Homo sapiens: one gene and its partner. The protein of the gene in region 2 purifies or fractionates together with the protein of the main gene of each other region. This does not show direct contact. Each region holds a gene or a part of one and is shown on either strand. Other genes may lie near its edges. The genes, in order: EMC2 and AGPS.

The links.
Region 1: the proteins of AGPS (region 2) and EMC2 purify together in Homo sapiens (affinity purification with mass spectrometry; 2 studies listed by BioGRID and IntAct, with this or other methods). This does not show direct contact.

What each region holds. Positions count from the first base shown.
Region 1 is NC_000008.11:108,464,254-108,480,608, reverse strand, and holds part of EMC2 (ER membrane protein complex subunit 2), read right to left. Parts: intron 10,784-16,355; coding exon 10,698-10,783; intron 10,548-10,697; coding exon 10,488-10,547; intron 9,756-10,487; coding exon of another isoform or gene 9,626-9,755; exon of another isoform or gene 9,446-9,625; intron 4,728-9,445; coding exon 4,646-4,727; intron 3,828-4,645; coding exon 3,717-3,827; intron 1,604-3,716; coding exon 1,499-1,603; intron 1-1,498. UniProt on the Homo sapiens protein: Part of the endoplasmic reticulum membrane protein complex (EMC) that enables the energy-independent insertion into endoplasmic reticulum membranes of newly synthesized membrane proteins.
Region 2 is NC_000002.12:177,382,459-177,399,194, reverse strand, and holds the start of AGPS (alkyldihydroxyacetonephosphate synthase, peroxisomal precursor), read right to left. Parts: upstream 6,423-16,736; 5' UTR 6,406-6,422; coding exon 6,146-6,405; intron 6,141-6,145; exon of another isoform or gene 6,071-6,140; intron 3,622-6,070; exon of another isoform or gene 3,517-3,621; intron 1-3,516. UniProt on the Homo sapiens protein: Catalyzes the exchange of the acyl chain in acyl-dihydroxyacetonephosphate (acyl-DHAP) for a long chain fatty alcohol, yielding the first ether linked intermediate, i.e. alkyl-dihydroxyacetonephosphate (alkyl-DHAP), in the pathway of ether lipid biosynthesis.

The DNA of each region.
Region 1 (16,355 bases), on a different chromosome or scaffold from region 2:
ATGTAACATTTAAAGTGAGAGCAACACCTCAGAATTCAAGACTTTGAGGGCTCTAGAAACAGAACAGAGGGCTGAAGCCAGAAAATCTTTCTGAGTCACACTGAGTTCTAAGACAGACTGGCCATTCATACTCAGTTCTAAGAAAGACCGGCTATACAAAGAGGTCATATTTGAATTCTCTTTAGCAAAAAAGGAGACGGCCATAGAATAGCCAAGCTGGGAAAGCTACCCTAACCTATCTCCAACTCCCTGCCATTCCATAAACATTGTCTCCTAATAGTCCAGGAAAACTACCTCATTTAAACATGGAGGAAAGAAAAATATGAATCAAATTCATATTTTTATAAAATACAGAAAATGACAAAATAATTTGAAAGAAAATGAATAAAGGACATAGAAAAATGAAGTCTAATACACGTATTACTGAAACCCTGAAAAAGAAAACTAAGCAGAGAAAAAAATATTTGTAATTCTAAAAGCAACTTTTCTCAAATAAAAGGGCTAAACTGATGTACTAAATGGGTGTACTGTGTATTTGGGAAAACTGACCCAAGAATAATCAATAAAACAAATCATAGTAAGACTACTGGATTTTAAAGATAAAGAAAAAATTCCTTTGCGTAACCAGACAAGTCACTTATGATAAAAAGTAAGTCAAGACGGCATCATATTTCCTGACGGCAACATTTTATTCTGAAACAGAATGAAATAGCTGGGCATGGTGATGCCTGCACCTGAAGTCCCAGCTACTTAGGAGGCTGAGGTAAGAGGATCACATGAAGCCAGGAGTTCATGGCCAGCCTGGGCAATATAGCAAGATCTCGTCTATATTAAAAACAAAACAAAACTGAACAGTATGCTTAAGATACTTAGGTAAAGTATTAACGGGTATATAAAAAGCCAAATTGTCCTTTAAATATAAAGGCTATAGACAAATAAGGCTAAAGACATAAAAAGATGTGTTTTCCCATGAGCAAATTTCTAACGAAAAATAATTTCCTAAAAAATCTGCTAAGGACGAACTTTAGAAAACTAAGATACAAATGGAGAAGTTTCAGTAAAGGATCTGAAGTGTAAGCAGACTGCACAAACTTTGTTATGCAGTTTGATTAGTTTAAGGCTTTCTTCCTTCTTTTCTATTTCTTGAGATACCTATGATTAATAATACACTCACATACCCAATCTGCTTCTGAAATGTGACGTGATATTTATTTATCCTTTCTGAGTTTTTAGAATTACTTTGCGTTTGCCAAATGCAGAACCACTGAGATTTCCATATGGTAAGGCTAATTATGAAATAATAATACTAACAGATTCCTCTTGAGGGGAAAAAAAGGTAATCTTAAAACTACAAATTAATTCAAAACACAACACATTTGATAAAGCCCCAAAGGCATATATAAGTCCAATGCTAGACATACGACTTTGTAGTTTGTAGTAACAAAACTAAGAAATACATTAACTGACCTACATAGCAAAATGATCAATAAATACTAACCTGATAAGCTCTGTTTATTTGACTAGCTGCCCAACTAGCATATTTCATGTTGTCCTTTTTCGTTTTTGCACTTGCTTTTGGATTAGAAGCAATATGACTTGCCGACTAAAAACAAATAAAAACATCAAAAGCAAAATTCCTTTTTTGCTAGTCAAGATAATCAAAAACATAAGGGACATGGTTGCAATGGGATAATAAAGAATTTTTAAAAACTGTATTAAAATAATTTTTAATATAAACATAAAGTTGAATATTAGTGCTTAAAAATGAAAATATATTTTAAAATATAGTATAAATCCAAAATAGTGGAAAGGGAAAAGATATTTTAAATAATACCTAAAATTATTTAATTATGTACCTGTAACAGCTCTTAAAGGTAAAATTCCATATCATTTAAATAAAGAAGCTCTAGAAGAACACTTTATAAACCAAAAGCACTTTACCACTGTAGGATATTACTGGTGTTATTTCTTATTACTGAATTACATAACTTGCTATGTCAGAATCATAGAATTATTGAATATTTATAGAAAAAGGAAACTCAAAAATAATTTAGCCTGACATCCTACATTAATAGGTTAAAGAAATTTAAGTCCAATAAGAGAGATTTAACTTGACCAAAGCAAAATAATGGGTCTTCGAAATAAAGAAGATCCTTATCTCTAATCCATTTCTCTTTTCACTATACCATGAGTTTTCAAACTGTGTTTCAGAGAACTAATTAGTCCCTGCAATTTGATCCACCCTCTCCTTTTTAAAAATGTATTTAAATGAGCGGTTCTTAATCTGGGATCTGTGAAAGAATCCATAAAACCCCAAAATCATATGCTAATTATTAAATGTATATATTACTGTGAAGAGTAAGATATAACTTGATTCCTATTCTTAAATATATTTTACTCTTAAAAGAATATGACCATGTGATTCAAAAAAAGGTTAAGCCTTTGTTTTATGCCAGCCTGTGCTATAGGCTCTTTCACCTATGTCTCCCTCTCTGCCAGTGAAGAATCTATATCCCCAAATCTGATTTTTATACCTCTATGACTTTAATGTTACCTTCTTCTTATGAATTTTAGCAGATGCAGTGGTTACGAGAAAAACTCTGGAGTTAACTTCCTGGGCTGGAAACCCAACTCGATCATTTAGGAGCTCTGTGCCCATCTTTGGGCAAATTAATTAAATCTGTGTCTCAGTTTCACCACCTGAGGATAGTATTGAGAGCACCTACTCAAACAGTTGATGTGCGGATTTATTGATTTAAAATAAAAAACAGAGCTCAGAACAATGCCCAGCACATGAAGTGCCATGTATAAGCTATTATTAATTTGTTGTATATTAGTTTTTAAAATTAGTATTTATTTGATACAGAGATACTTCTACTATAGCGTATTTTCAAGCCATTGCAATTGGCTTTGCTAAAATCCAGGAAAATTTTCTTGAAATTCATTTGAACCACCTTCTAACCATATTTTGCCATTCCTTTTTAAAAATTGTTTCATTTTTGTTTCTTCCTATTTCCATTTCTTCACTCAGTTCCTTTTCACTGAGCTGCAACAAGAAGACACTCATCAAGAAGTCAAAGGAACAGGATAAATAAAATATTAAAGTTTATTTCTCCCAGCGTTTCTTATTGTAGGGAGGTGCTCACTTTATATATATGTTTTAAAGGTCAGCAGATTATTCCTCTATTTCCCACAGCTCTTATTAATTGACTTTTCTAAGCTCAGCATTTGGCATACCTAAACAATAGGTCATTACATACTTCCCACAATTTCCAAACTGTTTTTCTACACCATAAAAAATGTTTTAATTTGATGTATTAGGGATTTGATTTCTAATGTATTTTATTGGCACTGTTTAAAAATACCTCATACAACTATAATTTAGGGAAGAAATACAATAATGTTGGGCATAAACCCAAGAATATCAAAACAAGAAATCATGTTTTCTTCCTATCTGTCACTATTTAATTTTATAAGGGCAGATTTCAATTCTGATATAAAAGATAGTTTACAAAAAAAGAATGTCAAACAGCTAGGCTGTGTTAACATTCAAAAAGAAAACTGGCTCACAAGCTATTGCTCAGAATTAATTACAGAAAAAAACATGCTTATCAATAAAATACAAAAAACAGGAGAGGAGTGATTGAAGGGGATAGTTAAATGGATTTTAAGTGACAGATTTTTAAAAATAACATTAAACATGCACCTCAACTCACCATATAAAGTCCAAACAAAGCTCTCATATTTCTGTTGTTCAGTTTCAATGCCTGTGCAAAATACTTTCTTGAAAGTTCGAGGTTTTCAAGTCCACCTTGGGTATACTTAACCTGTTAAAAATTGCAAAGTGCTGAAAACTGTTTATTTTACTACTTTGAAATATAGCATGGTTTCATCATACCATAGGCATTCAGTAATCGAAACAGATATTCTCTGTAAACAAATACAAGATGTTAAAAGAATTCACCTAAAGGTTTTTAAAGCTAATCTAAAATTTCAAACATAACCTTCCCCAAAAAAGCTATTCTATTCTATGAACATTGAGATGACTGAGTAGTTTCTAAAACAAAAATGCTGCCGCAATAAAAAGCCAGAATAATTTCTATTTCAGCTGCCTCGCAAATGCTTCACCTCACATTGTATTTTCTATTACTGGCATTATAAATGTGGACTTAAATATTGAATTGTCCTTTTATAATCTGCATGGACATTCTTTAATAATGAAGTCCTTCTAGCCTTATAGCATTCAGTTGTACTGCTATTCTTAATAATATGCAAATTAAATAAATACTTATGTCCCAATTGGCTTTAATACAAATTTCCCAGAATATGGATTTAACAATCATAATCACTATAAATGTCTCACAAGCCATTAAGTGGTGACAAATGTGATATAACTTATAATTAGGAAAGAAAATAGTATACAAATATAAAAATACAAGGAATTTCACTGTTTTAAGTATGTCTTAAGTCAGTATTACCACTGCAATGTTAAAAATTTTAAACTTTTATTCCCACAATTCAATGCTCATCAGATGTTTTAAATATTTATATACTTGCTTAACATCAAGGAAATATTCTTAGTTCCATAATAACACCGAATAGTAACCAAAATAAAATTATATGCCATTGTTCTGAAAACACTTACTTCAGCATACTGCTGACAGTATAAGTGGTTGTGTGGATTAGTCATCATTAGTTCCTCTAAACAAAAGGCTGCTTTTGCATAGCTAAAAACACATCAAGAGGAGAAATTAATTTTTAAAGTCACAAATTTTTATCTTAGTTAAACCTTGAAATAATTTAAAAACAACTTTAGTCATGTTAAACAATTTATTCCCAATATAATTTACATAGCTTTATTAATAAAGTATTTGTCATCTGAAATTCATAAATATCAATGACATTAAATTTTATCATGAAATTAATAAACACAGGCTTAAATCTTAAAGCAGCCTGCAAACAATCAATAGATACTACATTTCAAAAACTGGGTCACTCCTACTACATCCCATCACTACTAATAAGAAGGGCTTCAAGACCTTGGATCAAGCTGTATATAAAACAACTTCTGGAAGTTGACTGATCATTTAAAAAAATATTCAAACAGCTAATGTGTAAGGAGAAAATAAACATTTTATTAAATATTCTCTACTCACTAAAAATTCTTCACAGGCATATATTTACCAACATATTCTATTACAAAGATTTCTCTCATTACTTAAGTTCACTGTCAAATACCAAATTATAATGAAGTTATAAATTTCTAAGCCCATGAAAAACAGATCAAGTTGGTTTTGATATATACTGTACTATTATTTAATCTTGTGGTAGAATAAACAAAAATCTTGCTGAAAACCTAAGGAAAGAGAACTGCCAGAAAGAGCTCTGGAAAAACATTTTAAAGCATGTGACTGTAATTCACTAAATATATTTTAAACGTTTAATGCCATGTGACTATCCTCACTATCTACAGGAAATTCTAATGAACACAGGTGTTACAAGATTTCTTCCCAGTGAGGAAGTGATGACACTACCCAACAAAAAGAGGCTACCTAAAGTTATTTTTGGCATTTACCAGTATACAAAGGGATCTACCTTTACACTACTGCCTGATATACTTTTAAAAATTATTTTCCTGTTTCACACATGTATACTAATAATAGCTTTTACTAAATGCTTATTACGTGTCATGCATTGTTCTAAATGTGTTACATGTATTAACTCATTTAATCCTACCAAAACCCTAGGAAGAAGGAAATTATTATCAACATGCTAGAGCTGAGAATACTGAGGCACAGAGATGTAAACTGAATCCCAGGCTGTGCCACTCCAGACAGCCTGTACTCTTCAACCACTACATATGCTGCTTATATGCATTACACATCACATTGAAAAACTGAAGATGTCAATGGTAACATGAAAATGTGTACAGCAGTCACACCCAAAGGGACTGAGGAAAAAAAATACACCCTGCAGATTACCTAATAATTACAGCATTTTAGATTTATGAAGGACCACATATATATATGTATGTGTGTGTGTGTGTGTGTGTGTACTCTCATCCAAGATCATGCAGCTATTTAGCCCTTTCCATTTTTAAATTCAAAACCTAGCATTGGTTCTTGACACATGATAGGTATTTAATAAGACTGAACAAATGATTGAATAAATGTCTAAAACAAATGTGTTATGACTACCTACCTAATATATATTTATCACTCGAAAAGAAAAGGGAAAATTTGTCTCTACCTTAAACACTTTATCAAAAGACAGTTCTCTTCTAAATGTGTTCCTTTAATTATTAATAGTATGATGCCAAAAATTCATATTGAGACTAAGAATAAAAGTTCTTAGACATTTAAATGGGTTGAGCACAACTGTGACACTGGTGCATAAAGCAAGATAAAATGGGCAGGTAGTAGCAGCTCTTAGGGTAAAATGAATACCAAGATATTTTCTCAAAAATCAATTAGCATCACATATGAGAAAAGGACTCCTTCCCCCAATTTTATAAAGTACAGTATCAAACTAATTTTGTGGATAAAATATAGAATTAAATAAAATTAGAGCTAGAAGGAGCTCAACAGATGGTCTAGTCCAGCTTTTCTAGGCCATTGTTAGGCCACGCAGAAAGTGACTATTTCCTCAGTCTTGTCAGGGATAATACATAGCCAGTACTATTCTAGGTGCATAGAGAAGTTAATTCATTACACACAGTGACTCAACAAGACTAAGAATAGAGAAGTAAAAATAATTTGAATCTACTTAAAACAGAATAACAATTGTTATTACAATATTAGAGTCAGTACTAGAACTAAATAAAGTTTTCTTCTCTTCCTTACAAAAGTATATATAACTAAAGGTTACAGTATTTGGTACTGTGTGTTACTTTACCAACATCACAATTTTTCCTTAAAGAATTGTGGTAATTCCGTTGATATGGAATTTTAAAAGGCTGGACTTATGAAAAGGAACTATAATCACAATCATAATTAATGTATAATACTAACTGTTCCTTGCTGTATAGTATCTAGTTTCAATAACAAATGAAGTAAAAAAATTTGTCTTTCATAATGTGAATGTATTTTTGCTTACAAAGGTTGGGTATCCCTTAACCAAAATGCTTGGGACCAGAAATGTTTCAGATTTCAGAAGTTTTCAGATTTTAAAATATCTGCATTCTTACTGGTTGAACATCCCTAACGCAAAAATCCCAAATCCAAAATGCTCCAATGAGCATTTCCTTTGAGCATCATGTTGGCACTCAAAGTTTCAGATTTTGGAGTATTGTGGATTTCAGATTTTCAGGTTATGGATACTTAACCTATAATACATATTGGTAGTGCTGACACAAAAAAATTAACTGTAGTTTTAAAACTTTAGAACAAGTGTCTCAATATGGTCAATGGATGTAACATATATCCCTGGAATAACTAAAAACAAACTATAAATCAGAAACAAACTTATAAAAGTAACTTAAAAATATAAAAAGGTTACATGGCACAATTCTATATCCCTTTTTCTCTCTATAGAAACATTAAATAGGGCTATATGAAAATTATACTATAGATATTTATTTGGAGTTTAAAAATTCCAGAGCTGGGCACAGTGACACACCTGTAGTGCCAGCTACACAAAAGGCTGAGGTGGGAAGAGTACTTTAGCCCAGGAGCTCAAGTCTAGCCTGGGAAATGTTGTAGACTCTGTCTCTTAAAGAAAAAAAATAGTTCTAGATATAGGCTACCAAAGCTGCCTGCGACCTATTATACTTAAAAAAGCTTACAACTGTTCATATGCAGAAAGGAATATCGAATGTTAAATATATCTGACATTTTCGAAACTGCTACGTTTTTGCCACTGTGTCCCCAAGACTGGTGCTAAAACTGATATCCTACGATAATTTAACATTCCATCAAAAAATTCCTGCCTCCTATAATGACTTGCTCAAACATGTCAAATGAATCAAGTGAACTGATTGTAATTTTCACAGTTTCAAAAAAACCTGTAGATATGCATTTCCAGTCACCTAAACATAAATATTCCTTCTAAGTGTTCAATTAGAAAAAAAAAATGGTCATTTTGTAACTAACTAGCTTTAAGACCAAAAAGAGTTTTGTGATACTAGATAAAAGGGTAGGCTGACCATAATTATCATTTTCTCTAAAAAAATATTTTTAGGTGCTCCTACATCTTTGTAAATCTTCATTTTTTGAGATTTCTCAGTTCATTTCTCTTAAGTGTACATTCACCTCTGTTTCAATAAACTCTTTAGATTCCAAACAAAGCAAAACTGAAGGTGGTACCACATGGTGAAAAAAATAAGTAAATTTAATGGTAGGTTAAAAATAAGGTATAACCTAAATTTGATGATGAAATAAATATTAGAAATACATGCAAAAAAATAAAATTGCAAATGAAGTAGGGGGAAAAGGTGATATATTTTTAAGCTATTAAAGGACAGCAGACATGATAATGTTAAAAATTGATGAATCTGATTTTCTAAAAATGTAAAGTTTCTATAATTTTAAGAAGTCAGTATTTAAAAAGCATATAACAAGGATATACTTTTGACAAATGGTTGCTCTCCTTTATAAAAAGAGCTCGTAAAAATGAACTAAAAAGGTAGAACCAATTTCACCTATCAAACTTGTAAAGATTAAAAAAGAATCATAGTATCCAGTGTTGTTAAAGAGGGACTCTAGTAAATGCTGGTGTGCAAGTAAATTGATGTTACCATTCTAGGGAACAATCAGGAACTATTTATCAAAACCACAGAAAATGTACATCTTATTTAATCAAGCAATTTTACTTCAAAGAATTTAACCCAAGGAAACAAAATAAAAATGATCACTACAGCATTATATATAAAAATATAAAACAACCTTTATATCTCCCTAGGAAACTCGTTAAAAATACTAGGGTAAATTAGTAAGATGAAATAATATAAAGCCATTCAAAACACACTGTAGATTGTTACAGTGACAAGAAATTTTTGAACAAAATATAACTAAGGGAAAGTATAAACTACGGAAGATAATTTTATTTTGGGCTTTTATTTTAAAAGATAAGGAAGGACAAAAACCAAACAAACTATAGTTAACTTAGGATGCTGGAATTACATGTAATTTTTGTCTTGGTCTTTATGCTTTACTGTGTTTCTCAAATTTTCTGCATTAGGTATTCCTTTAACTTGAAAAAAAAAATTTCCTTGTTGATTTGAAATGTTTTAAAATGCTTTTAGTCAGAAAATCTTTAGAAAGTACAAAAAATGTTAAATGACTGTCACCTGTTTTAGAAACAAAATAAAATTAATGCTAATTATTTTTACTATACTCTAAAAATTCAATTTCATGTATTTAAATATAAGTATTATATACTGTTTCACATGTGTAAGAAATCATGAGTATGTTTACATATGTGTACATACAAGCATATCATCTATACTGAATGTGATTCAGGAAATAATTTCCTAATCAAAACCAGAATATCTGTTTCAGAGTATAGCAGAGAACTTGAAAAACAGTTCCTAGAATATAGTATACATTCATTAAATTACAGCTATTACTTTTATTTTAGCTCCCACTTTCCTTAGACTTATGCAAATAGACTACCTCAATCCTCTAGATCACATTATATATATAGACCACAGACAATAGACAAATGTCTTCATTCTGTTTCTCATCAGTTGTTTGTAGTATGAGAACAAGGTTAAATATTCATGCACAAGAAAATGCGCATGAGAATCTGATTCTATTCTGTCAAAAAGAAGGAAAAGAAACAATGTCATATACTTCAGATTTAGAAGAACTAAGAAAAAAAATAAAAAACACGCCTCTAGATGGAGGTTAGCATTAATGCTGTAATATTAGAAAACTTGCACTAAGACTCTGGACTAATCCTCTCACACTGGGATTTCCTCCTGTCACTACAGCAATAAAAAAGCTAACAAAAACATTAAACATCCAATAAGCAAGATCCTAGAGCATTCAACATTCTTGATTATTCTCAGTTTTTTACCCAGGCAACAGAATGCTTCTACTTTGGAAGAGTTGATTCTCTTAGTACTAAGGCTAATACATGCATACAATTGACAGAATTTTTAAACAGCAGGGAGTATAATACTCTTTGTATATAAGAACAATCTGAACTCTAAAAATTCACAATTTTGATTTACCAAAAATAAACTTAGCTTAGCAAATGCAGGCCTTTTTATTTCCAAAGAATGCCATCTATATTTGAAAGAAAAACTTATTTCCTAAACATAAACAATTTGGCAAAACACAAATGACCTAGTTAAAGCTATTCACTTATTATGACCAGTGAATTACTGATTTGTTCTTTTTCATTTAATTGTTGATTTGTTCTGTTTCTCATTTCAAATGACATGATTCACACCCTCTCACCAATCCTTTGGAAACCACAGTGCTTTCTGAACTTACAGTGATGAAAACTGCACTCAACAAAATGTTGTGTGTTTAATAACTTACTCATGTTCATTGATGTAAAGTTCTGCAAGTTCATGCCAGGCTTCTTGGTCTCCAACAAATCTGGTGAGAGGAAAAGAAAAAAAAGTAAGTGTGTAGATATTCTGTAAATGAACAGCATGAAAACAAACAGGAAAATCAAATGCAAATTCCATTTTAATTAAAAAAGATTTATCAGAATAACAAAACACAATCCTCTTGTAAAATACTCACTGTTCCAGATACTCATTCAGCTCCCGAATGGCCTCCACATTTTTCCCCTGGGCTTTTCGAATGGCAATCTTACGCTTTCTTGCAGCCTGTGGGTTGACATTAATAAAGGATTAGGCCCTTATGATTCCTTGGGGTTTTGTAAAGAAGGTAATTTGACTGTGCAAATTATTATCTCAATGCCAGAGAAATTCCATTGTAGAACTACTGCTTAGTGGGAGTTTATAAACATACCCCATGACATCCCACTGGGGAATTCAAACATTCCTCTAACAATCACATATGCTTTACTTTTGATGCACACAATGTATGCATCGTTTCATCCAAATAAATAATCATCCAGATTCTGATAATTATTAACCAGCAGGGAATCTTAATCTTTATCCAACTTAAAGCCCTTTACTCTGTCTCATTCATAAGATCTGTATCCTAAGAGGGGGAGGAACAGTGGAGATTAGGGGAAAAAAAATCTCACCATGGCATGGCCTTTGAATATCATTATATAAATATGTCTTCTGACAACTTTTTCACAATTTTAAGAGAAAATCTACCTATGAGTCTTTCACAAGAATAATACAGTCCTGAAATAAATATTGTATGATAAGCAAAACAATTAGAAGCTGTATTCTAAAGTTTTTAAAATGATAAACATAAAAATCAATGCCATTTATTGTGCATTCATCAAATATGTACCAGACTTCTACTGTTTGCCAATATTGTGCTACACAATGAAAATATAAAGATAAAAAAGAAATGATAATTCCTTGCAGAAGCTCATTCTCATGACAAAAACGTATCAAATAAAAAAGTTAATGCAGTAAGAGCAATGACAGGGATATCTAGGGTGTTATGAAAATAAGGAAGAGATTCTGACACATGCTGTGTCAGAGTGGACGAACTGGAAAGACAGAAAGCAAAGACGGTCCCACATATGATACGTGTACTGAAACAAAGAGTAAGTAGACATTAAAAAACAAAACAGGAAGTTATTTATGGAAACTGCATAGTGGGAAGAACACATGAGCAAAGGCCTAGGAGAAAGCAGTACTGGCTGAAGTAAACAGTCAGGGACTGGAGCATACTGTATAAATTATTAAATTTACGTCCTCTCTATTTATGTTTGCTTCAAATACAGAAGGATAAACAATAAACCATACTATAACTGAGGCCAAGCTAAACTTATTAATTATGAATAAAATTTCTTATTGTTGATATAATATTCCACAAGATGCAGACAGAAGTAAAATGGATGTGGTCTCTTTACAGTATCAAGAGCTACTCATTACGGGGTGGTAAGAGAGTGATTTGGCTCTGAAGAAATGAAAGTGAAAGTTTAGAGAAATCAAGAGACTAATAAATAAGGGTCAGAGCAATGTTTATAATATTTTGGGTAATTAAAAAATGATGTTTTAATAATATATATCCTTAAGCATATCCTGAGAGTAAAAAAAATAAAAAATAAAAAAAGAATCTATATCCTTAATTAATCAGGTCATGGCAAAGGCCTTTAGCACAATGCCTGTCACATAGTAGGCACAAGCAAATATTTTTAAAATAAGTTTACTAAGTAAAACAAAAATGTGCCACAATAAATGCAAAGTTTTAAAAGTCTCAAGAACTCAGAAGAAAAGTAAAAGTAAAGCTCTGAAAGTAACTCAAACCCTAAAGCCATTAAGAATTTTAGACTTAAAATGGGAGCATTGTCCCTAGTCCTCCAAATAGATGAGGGATAAATTAACATATAATCAGGAAACTTTCGGCCATTTAATATCTGATTTCACCAAAATCTGAAACATAATTTAATCTTTCATTTTTCATGACATTACTTCTTCCATAGACAATATACAGAGCATAATGTCTGTTTTGAAATCCAAAAGACAAGAAACTGAATCCCAACTCTTATCACTTACTAGTTTTAACCTCTACAAACCTCAGTAATACCATCTATCTTCAAGCATCAATATAAAGCAACTAACACAGCATATAATAATATTAAATAAATGTTATCTTCCTTTCTTTAACATTTGGTTCTAGACTTAATGTTTACGTGTTAAACCTTGCCACAAAATTCTAACTAAGCAATCTTTAAAGGACTGGCACAGACTTGCTTTATTTGATATTTATATCTTGTCCCAATCCTTACAGGATTTGCAACAGCAGAGATGAGATACTGTAAGCAGTGAAAACTTGTTGAAAACAGTTGGATTCACCTGGGAGCAGTGGTGCATGCCTGTAATCTCAGCACTTTGGGAGGCTGAGGTGGGAAGATCACTTGAGCCCAGGAGTGAGAGACCAGCCTGGGCAACATAGTGAGACCCTGTCTCTACAAAAATAAAAATAAATAGACATTTTTAAAAAAGAAAATATTGCATACAAATGCCACAAATCAAACAAAAAAATTAGCTGAGCGTGGTGGTGTGCACCTGTAATCCCAACTACTTGGGAGGCTGAGGCAGGAGAATCAACTGAACCCGGGAGGTGGAGGTTGCAGTGAGCTGAGACTGCGCCACTGCACTCCAGCCTGGGCGACAGAGCGAGACTCGGTCTCAAAAAAAAAAAGCCACTTAAAGTCTTAAAGTTTTGCCACATAATTCAAAGCATATCTAAAATTTTAAACAATATACAAGGTATCATACATAAAATAACCAATTATAATAACAAAAACACTGGTTCAAAAAACTAAGATAAAAATAGAAACGCACATCTTAGTTTCCACGCATTCATACCAAACAGTACTGGACACTGAAGGAAGTATCTACTGCAGATCGGTAGCTATCTGCAGAATAAATGAATACATCACAAATTTTACAATTGGAAAGAACTGAGGAGCAGGCAGTGATAATTACATCTCTTCATTTTACATAGACAAAAAACAAAGCCCAGACTTACATTGCAAATCCTGGGACTCCTGAATCTGTTCATGTCTCTTTTTTGCCATAGTCTCTTGCTCTCTGGACACTTAATACTCAGCTGTCCAACTCCTTATTCATATAATGTCTAACTGTGAATAAAGAGTCCAGCAGCTTATCTCCCAAAAGCCACACAAAACCCTAGGTTTTGAATGATTATCAAGCAACCAGAATGAGGTTCAACAAGGCTTCTTGTGGCTTCTGGGTCTCATTTAGGGCACACAAAAAAGGCTTGTAAAAAAGACCAATTTTGGCCAGGTGCAGTGGTTCATGCCTGTAATCCCAACACTTTGGAAGGCCAAAGCGGGAGGATCATCTGAACCCAGGAGTTTCAGAACAACCTGGACAACACAGCAAAATGTTATCTCTACGAAAAATTTTAAAAGATTACTTGGGTGTGGTGGTACACGCCTGTAGTACTAGCTAATCAGGAAGCTGAGGTGGGAGATCGCTTGAGCCCAGGAGTCAGAGGTTACAGTGAGCTATAATTGCCTCACTGCAATCCAGCCTGGGCAACAGAGCGAGATCCTGTCTCAAAAAAAAAAAAAAAAAAAAAAAAAAAATTCTATCATAGCTTCCTTAGCATAATATTCTATAAAATAAAAATTATACTTAGATTTTTAAAAATAAAAACAAGTTATTAGTCTTCACATACTCTTCAACAGCAGCAAGTACAGTCTCGTTAACTGACTAAATTTAAATAATAAAATTTCTGTAGGGGTAACAGCTGGTTGTCACGTGTATTAACTACCTACTCTCAATCCCATTTACTACCATTGCTTCTTTCCTCATGATAAAGAGCCTTAATTTCTGAAATCAAAGTACCTATCCAGAATTTCTTACTAACTGTAAGATCTTGGGCAAGTCACTTAACTTCTCTATGACCTTGTATGCCTATAGAATAAAGACAATATCTGAAAGGATTATGATGACAATTAATGGGATAATATATGTAAAGTGTTTAGCTCAGTGATGGTCCATAGTAAATATCTGATAAACATTTCCTTTCTTCATTATCACATCATCATCATTTTCTTCAATTCTATCACTCCCTTTCACCATTTTCCTCATATTTATACTCTGTTCTGTAGAAAGCTGCAGCTTTTTCTCAGTTGTAAAGTAGAAATCTGGATGACCATATAAGTTGTTCTTTTAACTGAACATGCTTCACTTAAATGTTTTTTAAAAATTAACAAAATCACAGCTCAATAAACAAATTATATCATCCCTTAATAAATGCTAATAATTACATTTTTTGACCTCACAAAGTTTAGAAGATTTTTAGCCAATATCAATTCATATAATTTGTCTGCAGCCTTAATCGATGTTCTGAATAAACAATCTGGAGGCATTAAGAAATGCAACAATAGTTCTGAAGAACCCATGTATGATAGTGAAAAACACGCTACTAAAAGAATACCACGAACCACAAACAATTTACTCCATTATTCAAAAGTAAATCAACTGGCCAACAACATAGATCCTATTCTATTTTCTTCAAAGAGCATCGAATACATAAGGTTCAATCCCTGGCTTCAGAGAATTCACATTCTTTTAAGTGACATGTGTTAAATATAAATAAAATTGAGAAAGAACAACTAAAAAGTACAGTATTGTTTAAACTTTGGAGTGAGCATAAAGGTTATTGTGATGTTTACTAAAACAATCAAAGGGAAGGTGGCTACAGGACAGCTAGACCCTGAATGAAGACTAGAATTGGAAGAGTCATGCTCCTGTAAGATTTTCCCAACTAAAGATATATATACACTAGTGCCAAACAATAAACGGAAACCTATATAATCTGTTTCAAACTTTTAAAGACCATGAATAAATCTTCATCCAACTGGCTACATGCCTTCTATAATATTACTCAGAATAGGGCTAGCTAGCAATTTTTTCTGAAAGACATACATTTTTTTATTTTAAATAGGCTACCTGGGGAAGAGATACTACCTAGAAAAGGATTAAAGGATTAAGGCCTACCGGCAAAATACAATCTATAACCTCCCCCCTGCCTCACTCCAGACTCAGGGACCCAGAAGGAACTGGACAGTTGACCAGCAAAAGGAAAGGAGAATCCAGGTTCCCTGCCCCCAAGGTTTATACCTAGAAGCCTGGAAAATGCGGCATTTTAAAAGCATCTTCTGGAGCAAGATACCCTCTCAAGATAATTGGTCTTACACATTTACCGTTTACGGAACACGTCTGACTGTGCACTCGGGTGTATTCAGCAGCATTGTTGCCTGCAGTTCCCTGTGTTCACCAGAGATGCTGAGCTCAAAGTGGAGGTTTTACTCTACTCATCACTGCAATCTGCACATTGCTCCACAGTCACACAGAGGCCTGTGTTCTGTTTCCTGTAAATGGAAACATGTTCTGAGCCTATCTGCCCCCTGTGGCTGCACCTGGTCCTCCGTACCAACCCCTGGGGGTATCCACAACCACTTGGGACAGAAGAAGGTGGAATTTCAAACAGGAGCTTGAATGGATCTTCAATGACAGACTTGGACTAGCTGTGGCCCAGACATCATCCCCACCCAGAATTGCCAGGAGGAGGCTTTGCTGGCACTGGAGGTAGCTCAGGGCCTGCCTGCCTCCCTCCACTGAGTCCAATGGGCACAAGCAGGCTGGCGTATGGCCAGAGTTGGCCAGAGTGTGTCAAAGCCCCTCCGATGCCTTTCCTTTACCTTTTTTAAAGAATCTCAAATAACTCATTGAAATGACTCAAAGGTGAAAAAGTTTTACCAAAAGG
Region 2 (16,736 bases):
CATAAAGTATCTCATCTGACTACAACAGCAATCCATTTCTCTGCAGCCTAAAAACAGATCACTTAATTCATTCTCAGGTATTTTTATTAAATGACCACAAGGGTAGATGGCTCTATAGTAACTTCCCAACATAAAAAAGTCTATGTAGAGAAGGTCTGGTCCATCTTAAAATGCAATCTAGAGAAGCATATTAACAAATAACCACAGCGATTAAATCTTCAGTTTCCTGTTCATTCACAGTCCAAAGACAGTTTGCAACTAGGCAGTAAACCCTCCATGACCTATTCTCTTTTCCTCCTTTCTTCTCTGATCTTGGGTCTTCCACATTCTTCCTAATTCCCTTTCATTCCAAACACTGTCTTCTTCCACAAGTCAAATGGCAAAATGCACTCACAAAAGTAAACTGGCTGGTCTACCTTTTTAAACCACCCATTACATTTTCTTATTATGAATTTCATTTTGACAGAATGATGTTTTATAATTTATTAAGTACAACATAAACTAATGCCTTCTTAACTATATGACAAAGTATTTGATCATGATCTATTTAATCACAAAAACTTTGAAACTTAGCATGACAAAGACAGCAACTTGATGAATAGTAAGTAGATATCTCCCCGGGAACATCAGATGTGGTAATCCAGCATAGAGGAAAGAATATGGACTCTGGAGCAAGAACAGAGTTGAAATGCCATCTCTTTCATTTCACAAATGCAAGGCCTTAGATAAATTAACTTCTCTAAGCCTCTAGTTCCTCAACTGTAATGTACATATAGTATCACTCATTTTTCAGAGCTGTTGTGTGAGATTTAAATGACATAATGTACATAAGCTTTAGCATGGTTCCTGTCATATTAGGACTTAGTCAATTAAAACTCCTATTACTACTATCACTAGAATTCCTAGCTAGGAACTCAAAATAGGGTAAATATTTCATTCAACATAACTACCAAAATAAGCTCGAATTTTGCCAAACGATGTTAAGTTTTAAGCCAGGTCACTTGTGCAAATAACCTTTGCTCTGTATCAGCTCTTACAGGCTTCAGGATACCCTCTTGGGAAATATTTACAAGAGGTTAACTCAGCTGTATTCCTTCTGGAAAATATCTACCAAAGCTTCCGGCAGATGTTAAATAATACTTTTTTGTTTTGTTTTGTTTTTTGAGACACAGTCTCGCCCTGTCGTCCAGCCTGGAGTACAATGACGCAATCTCAGCTCACTGCAACCTCTGCCTCCCAGGCTCAAAGCAATCCTCCCGCCTCAGCCTCCCCAGTAGCTGAAACCACAGGCCTGTGCCACCACACCAGGCTAACTTTCTTTGTATTTTTGTAGAGATGGGGTCTCACCATCTTACCCAGGCTGGTCTTGAATTCCTGGGCTCAAGTGATTTGCCTGCCTTGGCCTCCCAAAGTGCTGGGATTATGGGGTGTGAGTCACCATGCCCGACGTTAATATACTGCTTTTTATTAAAATGGCATTTGTAAGTGACATTATAAGCAAGTAGACTAAACAATTAGTGGCGTTCTTAATCATTCTTTTGACCTGAACATTTATAACCTCCGTAAAAACTGCCATTGAGCAGTTCTGACTAATGCAAACCACAATGAGGTTGGAGCCAAAGTTATAACTGGGAAAGAGGTTAGCAGTGTGGAAGAATGAAAGTTAACATGGTATTTTTTCTTCTCTTTTTCGTAAGACCACAAGAGCCTTAAAAAAAAAAAAAACTGAAAAAAATCCAAAACCAAGACGTAAAAGTGTCACATATGTAATTGACATTTACTATGATTTTTAAGGATCTAAAATTGCACTTAGAAGCAAAGTCAAAAGAAAAACTGTACATGGGTAACATGCACTTAAGGAAAAAGGGAGGATCCAAGAGTAAACTGTCACTTCAATACTCTGCTCAGCAACTTCAAATAATGAGAACATATGTTCCGGGATAGAAGTAATTGGAGCCGGCCAGACGTGGTGGCTCATGCCTGTAATCCTAGCACTTTGAGAGTCTGAGGTGGGTGGATCACTAGGTCAGGGGTTCGAGACCAGCCTGGCCAAGATGGTGAAACCCCATCTCTACTAAAAATACAAAACTTAGCTGGGCACAGTGGCAGGCTCTGTAATCCCAGCTACTCCGGAGGCTGAGGCAGGAGAATCGCTTGAACCCGGGAGGCAGGAAGTTGCAGTGAGCTGAGATCGCGCCACTTCACTCTAGCCTGGGAGACAGAGCAAGACTCCATAGCAAAAAAAAAAAAAAGAAAAGAAAAAGAAGTAATTGGTGCCAACTTCATAGGAGACCATGTGATAAGTAAACAGCAGGTTTTGTTTGGTCAGCCCTCTGAAATGTCCACATTCCTCTGGACTGTGTCATCCCTTTTCTATTGTCATTCAGTCTCCAAACTCCTGTGGCATTAATTTAGTTACATAGTTTTAAAGTGTGATTAAACTTTAATGGTGTCACCTAATGAACTTCTAAAACTCTCACACACATCATTTCCTCCCTATTCTCATTGCCATCATCTTAGTTTAATTCTTCATTATTTCTCGCCTATTGTGTTACAACAGCCTCCTCTAACTGATCTCCTCTAACTGATCTATGTCCATCCTTACCGTTCTCCAATCCATTCTTAACACTGTAGCTGGAGTGACTTCTCTCAAACCCAAACCCAATCTGATCATGTCTCTTCCCAGCTTAATTCCTTCAAGGGTTCTCTATCACCAAGCCCCTTCAGCTGCTTCATTTTTCTTTATATTTATCACTACCTGACATACTATATTAGTTGTTTGTTCACTGTCTCCACTCCAGCTAGAATATAAGTTCCATAGGGCAGAGTTTTTGTTCACTGCTATATTTTATAAGCATGAATGAATGCATGAACGAATGGACTGATAACCCACAAGCCAAAGACCTCCATGACCTGCCACTGCCCTCCTTTCATTTTATTCTCACCTCTACCAATACTAAATCACCTAGTTATGTAAATACGATATGCACTTTCATGGCCCCTTGCTTTGTCATATGCTGTTCCCTTTGCCTGGAATATAAACTCTCAAAATACCATCCACATTTTAAAATCTTCTCCAGAAAGCTTCCTCTGACCACCCCCACCCTCCCACCCCCATATAGAGTAAGTCAGTCTTTCCTTTGTGCTACATTTGTACCTGTATCTACAGTGGCTCTAATCAAACTGCACTGTGTCTCTCACTTCCTAGATTGTGAACTCTTTGAGGCTGAAGACTACTTATTCATCTCTTTACCTCCAATGCCTAGGACAGGACCTTCATAAAGCAACTACTCTATAAATGTTGAAACATATGCATGACTATTCTGTAACAGGAATGAAAATATGGCATTTCAAGAAGTCACTACTCCAGGCCATGTGATATAACCAACCATGTGATAAAACAACCATGTGATAAAACAATTACAAGCAATGTTATCATCCAAAGTAATAAAAGGGAAGGAATAATACACAAATCACAAAATTATTCCAAAATAATTGACATATAGGCATACTCACACCTTATTAGATATATACTGTGGTTCCTTCTTCCTCTATCATTTATCTTCCCTTTAGGCTGGATTCTGTAGCTGGCAACTGCAGGCCCAGCTAAGTAGGAAGTAGAAGGGAGACTTGGGTTCCTCATGATTATCTATCAAGTATATCACCCTCTGTGGAAGCTTTTGATGTGTCATCTAATACAAGTTTCTGTGTTCCCTCATATTTTGATGAAAATCTCAAAGTACCAGTACAGGACTAGATTTTACCACTAGTCGTCTAACCCCGAACCAAAGACCAGGGCTTCCCACCAGCTGTAACCTATGCAACAAATGGGTTACAGTCGTGCCTGAACTATCGATGCCTTCAGTCCTTGGAGCAGCCACACAGGGCATCCCTGACCAGTCACCTTCAACCATCATCTTGGTGTGCCTTACAAACGTTACTATTTTTTCTCTGAATGCTGTAAACCAAGCCATTAAATCTAACCATAAGGAAAACCTGCCCTCCTTACTTGGTTCTAAGAGTGTGAATCTACATAAAATGTACAATCACATATATGCATACAAATGAGAACACATAAATGTACATGAAACCATTTAGAAAATTTTAAACCTAATGACAGCTATTAATAATATAACCTCAATTGAAGCCAGGAGACGAGATGAAATCCTTTATTCCTCCCCTCCCCACCACTCAGTAACCAAGTTATGGAAAATTTACCTCCTAGCATTTTCTCAATTAAGTTGCCTACTCCCAATAATATGCCTTAGTTCAGAATCCCAGCATTTCTCCCTGGAATAATAGTCTCCTAGTCTCTCTGCCTTTAGACACTGTGAAAATTGCAGCTACCATTCTTTGAAAGGTTATGTAACAGGCATTGCACTAAACACTTGATCATTTAACTCTATTTTTTTCAATTCTCACAGCAACACTGCAAAACAGGATTACTGTTCCCGTTTTTACAAATGACGGTGACTGAAACTCTCAGAGGTTAAGTGATTTGCCCAAGATCATAGAGCTGTAACGGTGTAGTGGAAATTGAAATCCAGGTCTATGTTCCCAGCCATTATACTGCCAAAATGCTCAACTGTCTTCAATTTGCTCCCAGTGTGACCTTTATCAAAGGTAAATCTAATCATGTATTGCCCCACGTAAAATCCTGTAAACAAGATTCACCTCTCCAGTCTTCGTCCCCTGTCATTCTCACCCTCTCCTACTACACTTGAGTCTCAGCAGTTCCCTAATTTGTCTCTCACTTCTTTACCTGTGAACATACTGTTTGTATGCCAAGAACAATTTCCCCCTTTGGCAAACTATTAGTAATGCAAACATCCAAAATTTACTCAGACAATCTTTACTTTGGAACATCTTTGCACTAACAAACACAAACCCAAAACTGGGTTAAATGACCAGGTGGTATAGTTCCCAGTTAAGTTTCTTATAACGCTGTATTATAATTTTACCTACTAAGCTATTCCTTCCTTAAGAGTAAATACCGTATTTTTAAATTTCTGTATTGCTGGTACAGTGTGTATTTTGTAAAGACTCATGTATGTTGAATTAATTCATCAGAAGCAAGTATAGCTTAGGAACTTGGCCATGAAGTCAATTTGATGTGCTTTCAAATTCTAACCTGTCACACAGCATATCTGCTAAGACTCCAGCAGACTTAATTTATTCATCTGTAAAATGGGAGAAAACCGCACATACCTCATAGCTTGGGAAGAAACAAAGGATTTAGCACACTTTGGCACACTTAAAAGTACACTTTAAACATTAGCTACTTATTTTTTTCACTCTCGGTTTATCCATTTATCCACGGTGACAAAGCCACACGTCAGAAAGTAGCTTCTCCTAATAGCCTTCATCAGAGATTGAGGAGATCGAGACCATCCTGGCTAACACGGTGAAACCCTGTCTCTACTAAAAATACAAAAAAAAAAAAAAAGATTTCTCCAAAAACATCGAAAGTCAAGATCTCTTACAAACATCCCTCATCGGTTAGACTCTTGTCTTTTAGCTTCTGGTTACACAGAGCTCAGTAGCTATACCACCACACCTTAAACCACTAGCTAGTGTTTGCAGTTTATGGCTTCTTACCATTCATCGGTTTCCTCCCTCAAAGTCAATACATCTTGATCCTAAGCAAGTGGAACTTACCCCACAGAAACCAGTCAGCACCTTTTTCCAGGGCACCACCAGTTTCCCCCACAGCAGGCTTTCGCGAATGAGAGAGATTCCTATGATCTATCATCTAGTACAAATTTATATCTCCTCGGAGAAAAATAGAACCTCTGCTACCCATTCCAAGACCTCAGCACCAAAAGTATTAATTCAAGATAAAAAATGAATTCCTGGCACTAAAAGCTCAGGAAAAAGGAATCCTTTAAACCCTTCTCCAACGAGAGTTCTTCAAGCCTGTTACCCTCACATAGTGACCAAAATCCACCATCCCATCCCGCCCCCTTCCTGACAGAATCCAGGGTCTAGTCCACTCTCTCGAAAGAGAGGTGGGTCCCTACTTTCAGGGACCGGGATGCCTTCCGCCCACCCGTGTCACTTCCCTTCCCACCTCGCCTGTGCCCTCCTGCAGCACAGGCCCGGCCTGGTCCCTCGACGCTAACTCCTTCCACATACCGCTACTCACCGCTTCTTTGGGATGGTGCCCGACTCCTGCGCGGCGGGAGTGGCCGTGGGCGCTGCCGTGGCCGCCGACGCGGCTCTCCGCGCTTTGCACTCATTGGTACTCAGAGCCTCCCGGGGCCGGCCCAGCAGATGGCCAGAGAGAACCCGCAGCCTCCGCCCGGCGCGGTCCGGGTCCGGGTCCCGGTCCCGGTCCGCTGCAGACCCGTAGCTCGCGCCCGCGCCCAAGCCAGTCCCACCCGCTGCAGCCGCCGCCTCCGCCATGGCTACCGCCTTGTGCTGCCGCCCGGAACCGCTGGGCGCGGGTGAAAGGTCACTCAGAGCGGCGCCCGGCGCGACCATTCGCTGCGGCGCATCCCGGCAGCCACCGCGGCGACTTGGCGGCGGGTGCCATGCGTCTGGAGCTTCACATTCTCTGCCCCCCACCCACCGCGCCGGCGCTCCCTTGTCACGCCTCGGGAAGCGCGCACCTGCCAAGCAGGTGAGTTCGAGCTGACTCCCGGTTGGCCCAGCCCGGTCCAGCTGGACCGAGAGCCAAACCACGTCCGCCCTCGAGGTGTCCTAGAACCCTGGGTGGTGTCCTCGGGTGTGGCCTGGGGGCTTTCGAGGGCAGATGCCTTGGAGCAGGAGAAATGGGCAGTGCTACTGGACCTGATGGATCCAGCGGCATCCTTTTCCTGAAAGAGATTCTAATGTTCCACCTGTGCTCTTCCTCCCTGCGGGGTCACCAAAGTAACTCAAAGCTGACCATCATTGCCTCTAACCATTAGAGCAAATAGCTCTATCATTTTCTTATTTCTCACCACCTATTTCGTGCCTGGCACTGTGTTTAATGCTAGATCACAAGTAAGTACAGAAACTGAGTTGCAACTTAAGTTCTCATTTCATTCATTACTGGATCCTAACCCCTTCCTAACTTTAATAGAGATAAAGTTTCTTATTGCTACAGACAAAAATTACCCAAGAGCTGTGAAGACATCTCAGTTATTTACAGATTGAATTCATTTCTGGAAGATAGCACGTGAAAAGTGCTCCTCACCTGTTTCAGCCGGTGTCTTGCATAAGAATTAGCTTAGACAAAAACTCACATACACTGGCCATTGTCATTCTCCATCCTGTCACCACTTTCACATCATGCTTTCCTAACAAGAAAAATATTGGCAGAGGAATCTGAAGAACACCACATCCATGGGACTAGAGACTAACAATTGCTCTCTTGGGTGTTGCCAGCTTCTAAAATTGAGATTATGCCTTTAGAGTGAACTTCCAAAGAGGCCCAGACTGGTTAAAAACTCTCAATTAAGGGCTAAGCAAATTGCTGTTGGAGGGCCAGCTCTAGTCTGTGGCCTGTTTTTACACAGCCCTCATGCTAATGGTTTTTGTATTTGAGAAGGGTTGTTAAAAGAAAACAAGAAATTTTTTAAAAGAATATGCAACAGAGACCTTATGTGGTCCCAGAAGCCCCAAAATATGTATTACCTGGCCTTTACAGGAGGTCCGAATGTCTTCTGAAATTTATATACGAAGAGATACCAAACCATTGAAAACAGTCCAAATGTCTAGCAACAGAGAAATGGTTAGTCAATATGTTAAAATACTTTTGCAGCTATTAAAATAATTTAGTACAGTTGTAGAAACAAGAAAGAATTAGGAATTTGTTAAATATAAAAAATGGCCATAACCTAGGCATCTTATACGTATCTATTTAATCAATCTTTGCAGTAACACAATGACACAGTTTTATTATCCTTATTTTATAGATGAAGGCTCAAGGAGAGTAAGAAGCTTTTCTTAAATAGCTATATTTTATCTCAAATATCATATACTTCATGTTATTGTCCTTATTCCACCATTAGAGTTTGGGGCCATTAACATTTTACGTTAAAATTACTTACGTAGGCTTGGGGTTTTTGTTTTTTATTTTATAGATTCTAAAATTGAACTTTCTAAAATAAATTTTCACTTTAATTATAAACTATACTCCTGGTTCTTAAGGATTGAGTTCTGGGAAGAATTTCAGAGATTGCCACCACAGCTATCACGACCTCATTCATGAGGTGCAAGAACATGAAACACATATAGCACTTTCCTAGGTATTTATGACTGAAAAAAGAGAATCTTTAGTTGATCTTGTAAAATTAAATATCAAAGCCTGCAAGCCACTAGTTTCTGGCTTTTGCATACTTTGTTGCCTACCCTCACAACAAAGAAGTTGCACCTGATTGACATTTTCAGTATTCAACTGATGACCAGAAAAGTGGCTATATGCTCCTACATGTTTGATAACAGAAGAAAAATCCTAGCTTCCTTTCCTTTACTTGATTTTGTTGTCAATTAGAGGAATTGTCTCTTATTTTAAAATTTTAAAACCCACTTTGCCTTCCAGTGTCATGTACATAATTCTAATGGTGTTCTTTTTGTCTTGCACAATCTGAAGAAAGTCACACTCATCTCCTCTGACCTGATAAAGCAGTCTCCAAAACAGATAGATGGAGGTGGCTCAATCCAATAATTAATGAGCCAAGAATTATTCCTGTATACTATCCCCTCAGTTCATCTAGGCATTACCTCCATTTCCTCATGTTTTACTTCCTCCTGTATCTTTAGAATCCAATCTCAGATGTCACTGATGAAGTTGTTGCAGAGAAATATGATAACAGCTGTCTAGACCTATCAGTTATTGAATTGAGATGTCCTGTAGCCTTTGATACAGTAGGTCATTTTTTGTTTTTGCAAGAATGTAATCCCGTGATTCTCCATGTGCTTCCTTGAATGGGGTAGAAACTGAGCTCATTTTCCCCTCCCTTTTATGCTTCCCTATAGTCCACCAAAGTGCCACTGTCATCCTGTTCCATCAACCTCAGGGTTATTTTCAGCCTTTTCCTCTTTTGCTTTTTATATTAAGTACATCAACAGTACATTATCCTCTGTGTCTCTTAAATCTATTCTTTCCCTGAGAATTTATCCTCTTGCTTATCATTTATCATATACTGCCTTTATATGTTAATTAACTTTTCATTTACTCATGTCTGTTACTCCCAGTAGGCCATAAACTCCATGAAGACAGAGTTCATATCCCACATAAGAATCTGAGACTTATACTTAATTTATAAGTGACTCGTCACTTTGAATCTGGGGAGAGACACTGAGCCACAGTCCCCATAGGAACTGTTTTCCTCTTTTCGCCCATGTGAAAATGCCTAGCTAATGGAGGTTCCAGTGAGCCGAGACTGTGCCACTGCACTCCATCCTGGGCAACAGAGTGAGACCTTGTCAAAAAAAAAAAAAAAAAAAAAAAATGCAAAGAAAAGGGAAAGAAAGAAGGAAGGAAGGAAGGGAAAATGCCTAGCTAATATTTAATGTAGAAAGTTACCTCATAGAAGAGCACTTTCCAAGATGATGGGAATGTTCTGTATCTGTACTGTCACTGCTAGTTATATGTGACTATGAGCACTTGAAATGTGGCTAGGATAACTGAGAAACTGAATTTTTAATTTTAATTAATTAATTTAAACTTAAATGGCCTTATGTGGATCATGGTGACTATATTTGATAGCACAGTTGTAGAGTTTAAGTTACTGGTGCCTGGAGATATCAACCTTACTTTTCCCATACTACTGTTATAACCCACACTGGGGTATGGAGAAGAAAAATATGCGAGAAGTATTTGTCCCTTGCATACTGACCTAGGGCTGTAAATGTATTTTTGTCAGAAAAAAAAATGCTATAAATGATTAGGTGTGGTCAAAATAATACCATTTCCAGTACATTATGGATTAGATAGGCTTTTACAAGCCATCTTGCAGATCCAACCATCAGAAATAAGTTTATTTCTATGTAATGTGCAAGTCAAAGGTAAGTTTTGGGAATGGTAAGAAAAAGGGTTTCTGTAAGGTTTCCAAGCCTATGCAGTTACCTCCTTTCTGATTCACCACCTCCTTTGTAACACAGGCTCTGTAAAAAAGTTAAGACATTCTAAGAGTTGTTTGACTAATGTAAAATAACTATTTAATGGTTCTGAGAAAAGGCAGACAATGAGGAGGACTTGATTTTTGTGCTAGATCTCCAGATCTTAAGCGATTGTTCGAGCACTATCCAGTCAAGCTCGGAAGGATCTGTTAATTTTTGCCTGACTCCCTGGAGTGCTCAATCTGACACTACTAAAATACTTTAAATGTAAATGTAGTTAACTGCTTCCTTGTCCAAATTAAGTTATAGATATGCTTCTTGCCAACTCTCAGAAGGCAAAAATTTATAAATTTTGCAGATATTAACAGAGTAACAAAAAGCTTTCTTCTGGGTGATGAAAAGCTTAATGTAAACCAAAATTATGTACCAGTAGGAAAACTACTGATTGTATATATTTTAAATATGTGTACAATAATGAAAACATATAGACGGTAAAAGCATTTGTTGAAAGCCTATCATGTACCTAATTCACTACTAGGTGCTATGAGATGCAAAAGTGTTTAAGCCAATGCCTCATTTACATGGTATAATCAGGCTAGTTAGAAGTCAGTCCGTAAGTGGGAAAAAAATTATGTAATACTATTAGTGGGAATAAGGATGAAGGTGACCTTGATGAAGAGTTTCCTACCACCTCTCCATACAAAAGTAGAACCCAAGCAGGATACCCTGAATTCATGCTACCAGAGGAACAGATATTTCATATGAAGCCAAGTCCATCGAGATTCTTGTGATTTCCACAAAAATTAAAACCTCAGTGAATATCACTTTTAGGTGGGCCATCTCAACAAACCTGTCCTTTCTGAGTCCTGGGACACTTGGCTCTTAATTGAGAACAGACCACATGCACAGAAACAAGCAGTGAATGTATGACCTGTAATTTTCAATGGAGTGGATTTATTTGCATTCATGACATCTTCTAACTTGAGGCACAAAAAAAAGTCTAAATAGGATAGATTAACTCCTGGAATCATGCACCAAATTTCTTTATTGCTCTGATTTTCATTACTTGTCTTCTGAGCTTCTGAGTGATCCCTAAATATAGGAATTCTTGGATTTTTATACCCTTTTTTGTGAAATATAACACAGAGAAAAGTGAACCAAAGCATAAATTATCACAAATCAAGCACCTTTAATCTACCATCTAGGTCAGGAAATAGAACATTACAGAATCCAGAAGTCCCCCTTATGCTCTCTCCCAATCACTTTATGCACTCTCCCTGCCACCAAAGGTAACCATTGTCCTAGATGTATGATAAGCACTTCCTTGTTTGTTTTTTATGGTTTTATCAACTAAGCATATATCTTTTACCTGCTCCTGTTTTTTGCATTTATATAAATAGAAGATTATGATATGTTCTTTTGTGTCTGGTTTCTTTCATTCAACATTATCTTTATGAGTTTTAATAACGTTGTAGTTGTGCATTTATTTTATTTGCTGTATAGTATTCTATTAAATCCATATATCAGAGTTTATCTTTTCGACAATTAATAGACATGGACATTCGAAGTGTTTCCAGTTTCATACTACTATGGATAGGCGTTACTATGCACATTGTTGTAGATGTCTCTAGGTGTACAGGCATGTGAATTTCTGTTGAGTATCCATCTAAGAGTGGAATTCCTAGGTCAGAAAGTGTACATATGTTTAACTGTGCTTAACTGTAATAGATAATGAAACACCAATCTATTTTCCAAAGGGATTTTACAAAATTTGCTGCCCTAGCAGTATATGAAAGTTCCCATTGCTCTAATATGTGTTATTGTCAATCTAGTTAGTTTCAGTCACTCTGGTAGATGTGTACTATTATCTTATTGTGGTTTTAATTTGCAGTTCCCTGATTACTAATGAGATCAAGCACCTTTTTATGTGTTTGTTGACTATTTGGATGTCGTTATTTGTGAAACTCCTGTTCAAGGCTCTTATTCATCTTTCAGTTGGTTACCTGTCATCGTCTTATTGATTTGTAAGAATTATTTATATATTTCAGATATGAGCCTTTTTCAGATAGATGTATTGCAAATTTCTAATTTCATTATGTGATTTGCCTTTTTATTTGCCTAATAGTGATATTTGAAGAGCAATAGATCTAACTTTCATTGTGACCAAATTTACCAACCTTTTCCTTTATTTGACATTTTTTGTGTTCTGTTTAAGATATCTTTTTCTGCTTTGAGGTAGTGAAGGTAATTCTCCTGTATTATCTTCTAGAAGCCTTATTTTTATAAGGCTTTTTTGACTTTCATATCTATATCGATTTGCCTTTCATATTTATATCTATAGTTCACCTGGAATTGATTTTGGTGTTTATGGAGTAGAGGTCAAGTTTTTTTTTTTTCCCCCACATTGGTATGGGGGGTTGTCTCAGCACCACTTGTTGAAAAGCTCTTGTTTGACATTGCCACCTCTGTCATAGATCGAGTGTCCATATAAGCACTGATGTATTGCTGGGCTCTCTATTCTGTTCCATTGGTTTATCTATCAACTTTGTATCAGTATCACACTATCTTAACTATTATATATTCTTCTAGATCTTTTACATAGAATTATATCATTTGTGAATAATGACAGTTGATTTCTTCCATTTCAATTGTTATATCTTGTGCTTTTTCTTGCCTTACCCAGCTGGCTAGGACCTCCAGTACAATGTTGAATAGAAGTTTAGATGATGGCAACCTTATAATGTTCCTGATTTCCAAGGGAAATCTCTCCACATTTTGCCATTGTTTGAAGTAGGGTTCTGATGTTTTGCTTTTTTAATAAACCTTTTAGCAGATTAAGGAACTCCACTTTTGATCATAGTTTGCCAACAGTTTTTATCATGAATGGATATTGAATTTTAGCAAATGTTTTTTCTTGCCGGGCATGGTGGCTCACGCTCGTAATCCCAGCACTTTGGGAGGCGGAGGCAGGCAGATAACTTGAGGCCAGGAGTTCAAGACCAGCCTTGCCAATATGGCGAAACCCCATCTCTACTAAAAATACAAAAATTAGCCAGGCTTGGTGGCACACACCTATAATCCCAGCTACTCAGGAGGCTGAGGCAGGAGAATCACTTGAACCCAGGAGGCGGAGGTTGCAGTGAGCTAAGATTGTGCTATTATTGCACTCCAGACTGGGTGACAGAGCAAGACTCTGTCTTAAAAAAAAAAGCATGGGCTGGTGGCAGGGGTGGCTTCTGTATCTGTTGAGATAATCATATGATTTTTCTCTTTTACTCTGTTAGTAAGGTAAATTATAAGGATTGGCCTTCTACTGTTAAGGAAACCTTGTAATCCTGGCATAAACCCAACCTGGTCATGAGATATTGACCTTTTTATATATTACTAAATACAGTATATTAAAATGTTGTTTAGGGATTTTTGTATTTATATTTAAAAGTATATTTATATTTAAAAGTAATTTAAAAGAAATTTTTCTTTCTGTAATATTCATGTCAGGTTTTGCTGACCTCATGAAACAAGCTAATGAGTACTCCTTTGTTTTCTAGTGTCAAGAAGAGTTTGTATAAGATTGATCATTATTTCTTCCTTAAATGTCTGGTAGAATTCACCAAAGAAACAATCTGAACCTAGAGTTTTCTTTATGGGAAGGTTTTTATTCATAGATTAAATAACATAATGCTATTTGGATTTTCTATTTATACTTGTTTGTTGTTTCTTTACTTTTTTTTTTTTTTTTTTTGAGACAAGGTCACTCTGTCGCCGGAGGGCAGTGGCATGATCATAGGTCACTGTAACCTGGAACTCCTGGGTTCAGGCAATCTTCCCACTTCAGCTTCCTGAGTAGCTAGAATTACAGGTGTGTGCTACCATTCTGGCAGTTTTTTTTTTTTAGAGACTATATCTCTATGGGGTATAAATTTCTCTCTAAGCAACACACTTTATTCCTTCAAGTTTTAATAACTGTATTTTCACTATTATTCACTTATAAATAATTCACTTTTGTATTTAAAAAGAATAAGTATTCTTTCTTGTTTGGGAGTATAGAGTTCCATATAATGCCTGTTCAAATTTGCTGATTATATTGTTTAAATCTTTTAAATCAAAGGTATTTTATCTACTTATTCTATTAGTTATTGATAGTATGTTGAAATATTCCACTGTTATAGATTTATTCATTTTTCCTTGTAGGTCTGCTAATTTTTATTTTCTCTATTTTGAAGCTATGTATTAGATATATCAAAATTGTTATATTTCTCTGGCAAACTGAACCTTTTATAATTATCAAGTGTCCCTCTTTGTTTCTAATAATGGTTTTTGTTTTAGAGTTTAACTACACCAGCTTTGTGAGTGTGTTTATAATTCCATCCTATAACTTTTCATCTTTTTGTATCCATATATTTTAGATGTGTCTCTTGTAAATGCATTTAGATGTTTTCTTTTAACCAATCTGAGCATACAATCGTGGGTCATTTAGCCCATTTTAATGTAATTGAATTACTAATATAGTTGGTATAATAGCTAAGAGCAGTGGCTTCAGTGCTACACACACCTAGGTTTGAATATTGGCTCTACCATGGCCAAATATGTTGTCTTGATCCTGGGCTTGGTTCGCAGGAGCATTAAAGGATTAATGAGCAAAAACAGAAATTCTAAGTGCTATTATTGAAGGGGAAGTGAAGCTAGTATAAGGAAGACAGTCTTCCTGGAAAAAATTAATTATTGGTAGAGGGAAGAGAAATAAAATTAAATGGGTAAGGTGAGACCAACCGTGGGAGCATTGAAAACTTAGCAAAAGAGTAAAAACTTTTGCTGGTGGGAGCTTTTAGAAGCTCTTGAGCATGGAATTAGCATGACAAGCCTGAAGAGATCACTACTTTGGAATTTTCTCCCAAGTGGAAGTCAACCTGTTGGGTATACCCGAGAACCTGTTGGCCATTGTAAAAAGTTGTACTGAGAAAGGATGAAGACCTAAACAACTACAGAAAGAAGATTACAGTGTTTGAATGACAGGAAAGCATTGAACTATGGTTAGCTGTCTGTTGCAGTAAAGGGAAGTGAGTTAGCTCAGGAGGTGAAGACGTTTAATGTGAAAGTGGCTGCAGGTAGTTCCATGTTGTGTCACAATGCCATTCACTGTGCTCCTGGATGTCACAATTACACTGAAGTGTACAGGGCAAAAGGCTAATTTTAAAATTAGCCAAATAACTGGGAGAGAGTTGAAAGTACCTTATGTATAATTTCTCTTCTGCTAACTTAGTATGCAATCTAAAATTCTTGATTTCTTGATTTTTTTCATATTTTAAGTAGGAATAATTTCTGACTTGCCTACATCTCAGATTTATTGTAAAATGATAGATGCACAAGTATTTTGGGAACCCAAGTCAAAAATCACTTTAAAATAATTATTTTTATTGGAATATATATAATCAAGATTTGATATTTACCAATATCAATACTCAAACAGGCGGGGCGCAGTGGCTCACACCTGTAATCCCAGCACTTTGGGAGGCTGAGCTGCACCGATGGCTCGATCCCAAGGAGTTCAAGACCAGCCTGAGCAAAATGACGAAACCACACCTCTACAGAAAATACAGAAAGTTATCCAGGGATAATGGCACATGCCTGTAGTCCCAGCTACTAGGGGTGGGTGGGGGGTTTGAAGCGGGAAGATTGCTTAGTCCTGGGAGGTTCAGGCTGCAATAAGCCATTATCACACCACTGCACTCCAGCCTGGGCGACAGAGCGAGACCTTGTCTCAAAAACAAAACAAAACAACAATGACAACAACAAAACACCTCTAAAGCAGCAATTCTTAAACTTTTTAGTCTCTAGGATCCCTTTATAATATTAAAAATTGAGACCCAGCCAGGTGTGGTGGCTCACACCTATACCCCAACACTTTGGGAGGCTGAGGTGGGAGGATCACTTGAACCTTGGAGTTTGAGGTCAGCCTGGGCAACATAGGGAGACCTGCACCTCTACAAAAAATTAAGAAATTAGCCAGTCATGGTAGAGCCTGCCTATGGTCCCAGCTACTTGAGAGGCTGAGGTAGTGAGGTACGAGGTCGAGGCTGCAGTAAGCCATGATCACGCCACTGCACTCCAGCCTGGGCAACAGAGCAAGACCCTTTTGCAAAAAAAAAAAAAATTGAGATCACCATGCCCCACAAAGAGCTTCTGTTTATATTTACATCTATCCAACTATAACATATTAGAAATTAAAATTGAAAAATATTTAAAGTCTTGATTTATCAATTTACTTAGAAAGAATGATAAACCAATGCATATTATAATAACATGCTTTATTTTTTTAAAAAAAAACATATTTTCCAGAAAAAAAACATGAGAAGAATGATATTCCTTTACATTTTCAGAAATATCTTTGATGCCTGGCTTCTGACTTAGTAGAAGACAGCCGGGTTCTCATATCTGCTTTTGAATTTCATCTTTTGAGATATCACACGCTGTGTAACCTCTGGAAAACTCCACTCTACGCTCATGAGAGAATGGGAGTGAAAAAGACAAATAACATTTTAGTCTTATTATGAAAATAGTTTTGACCTTGCTGACCCACTGAAAGGGTCTCAAGGACCCACGGGGGTTTCCAGATGACATCTTGAGAACTGCAGCTCTGAAATATTTCTAAAAACATCTGCTAAAACATGCATTGAGGAAGCTCTAGA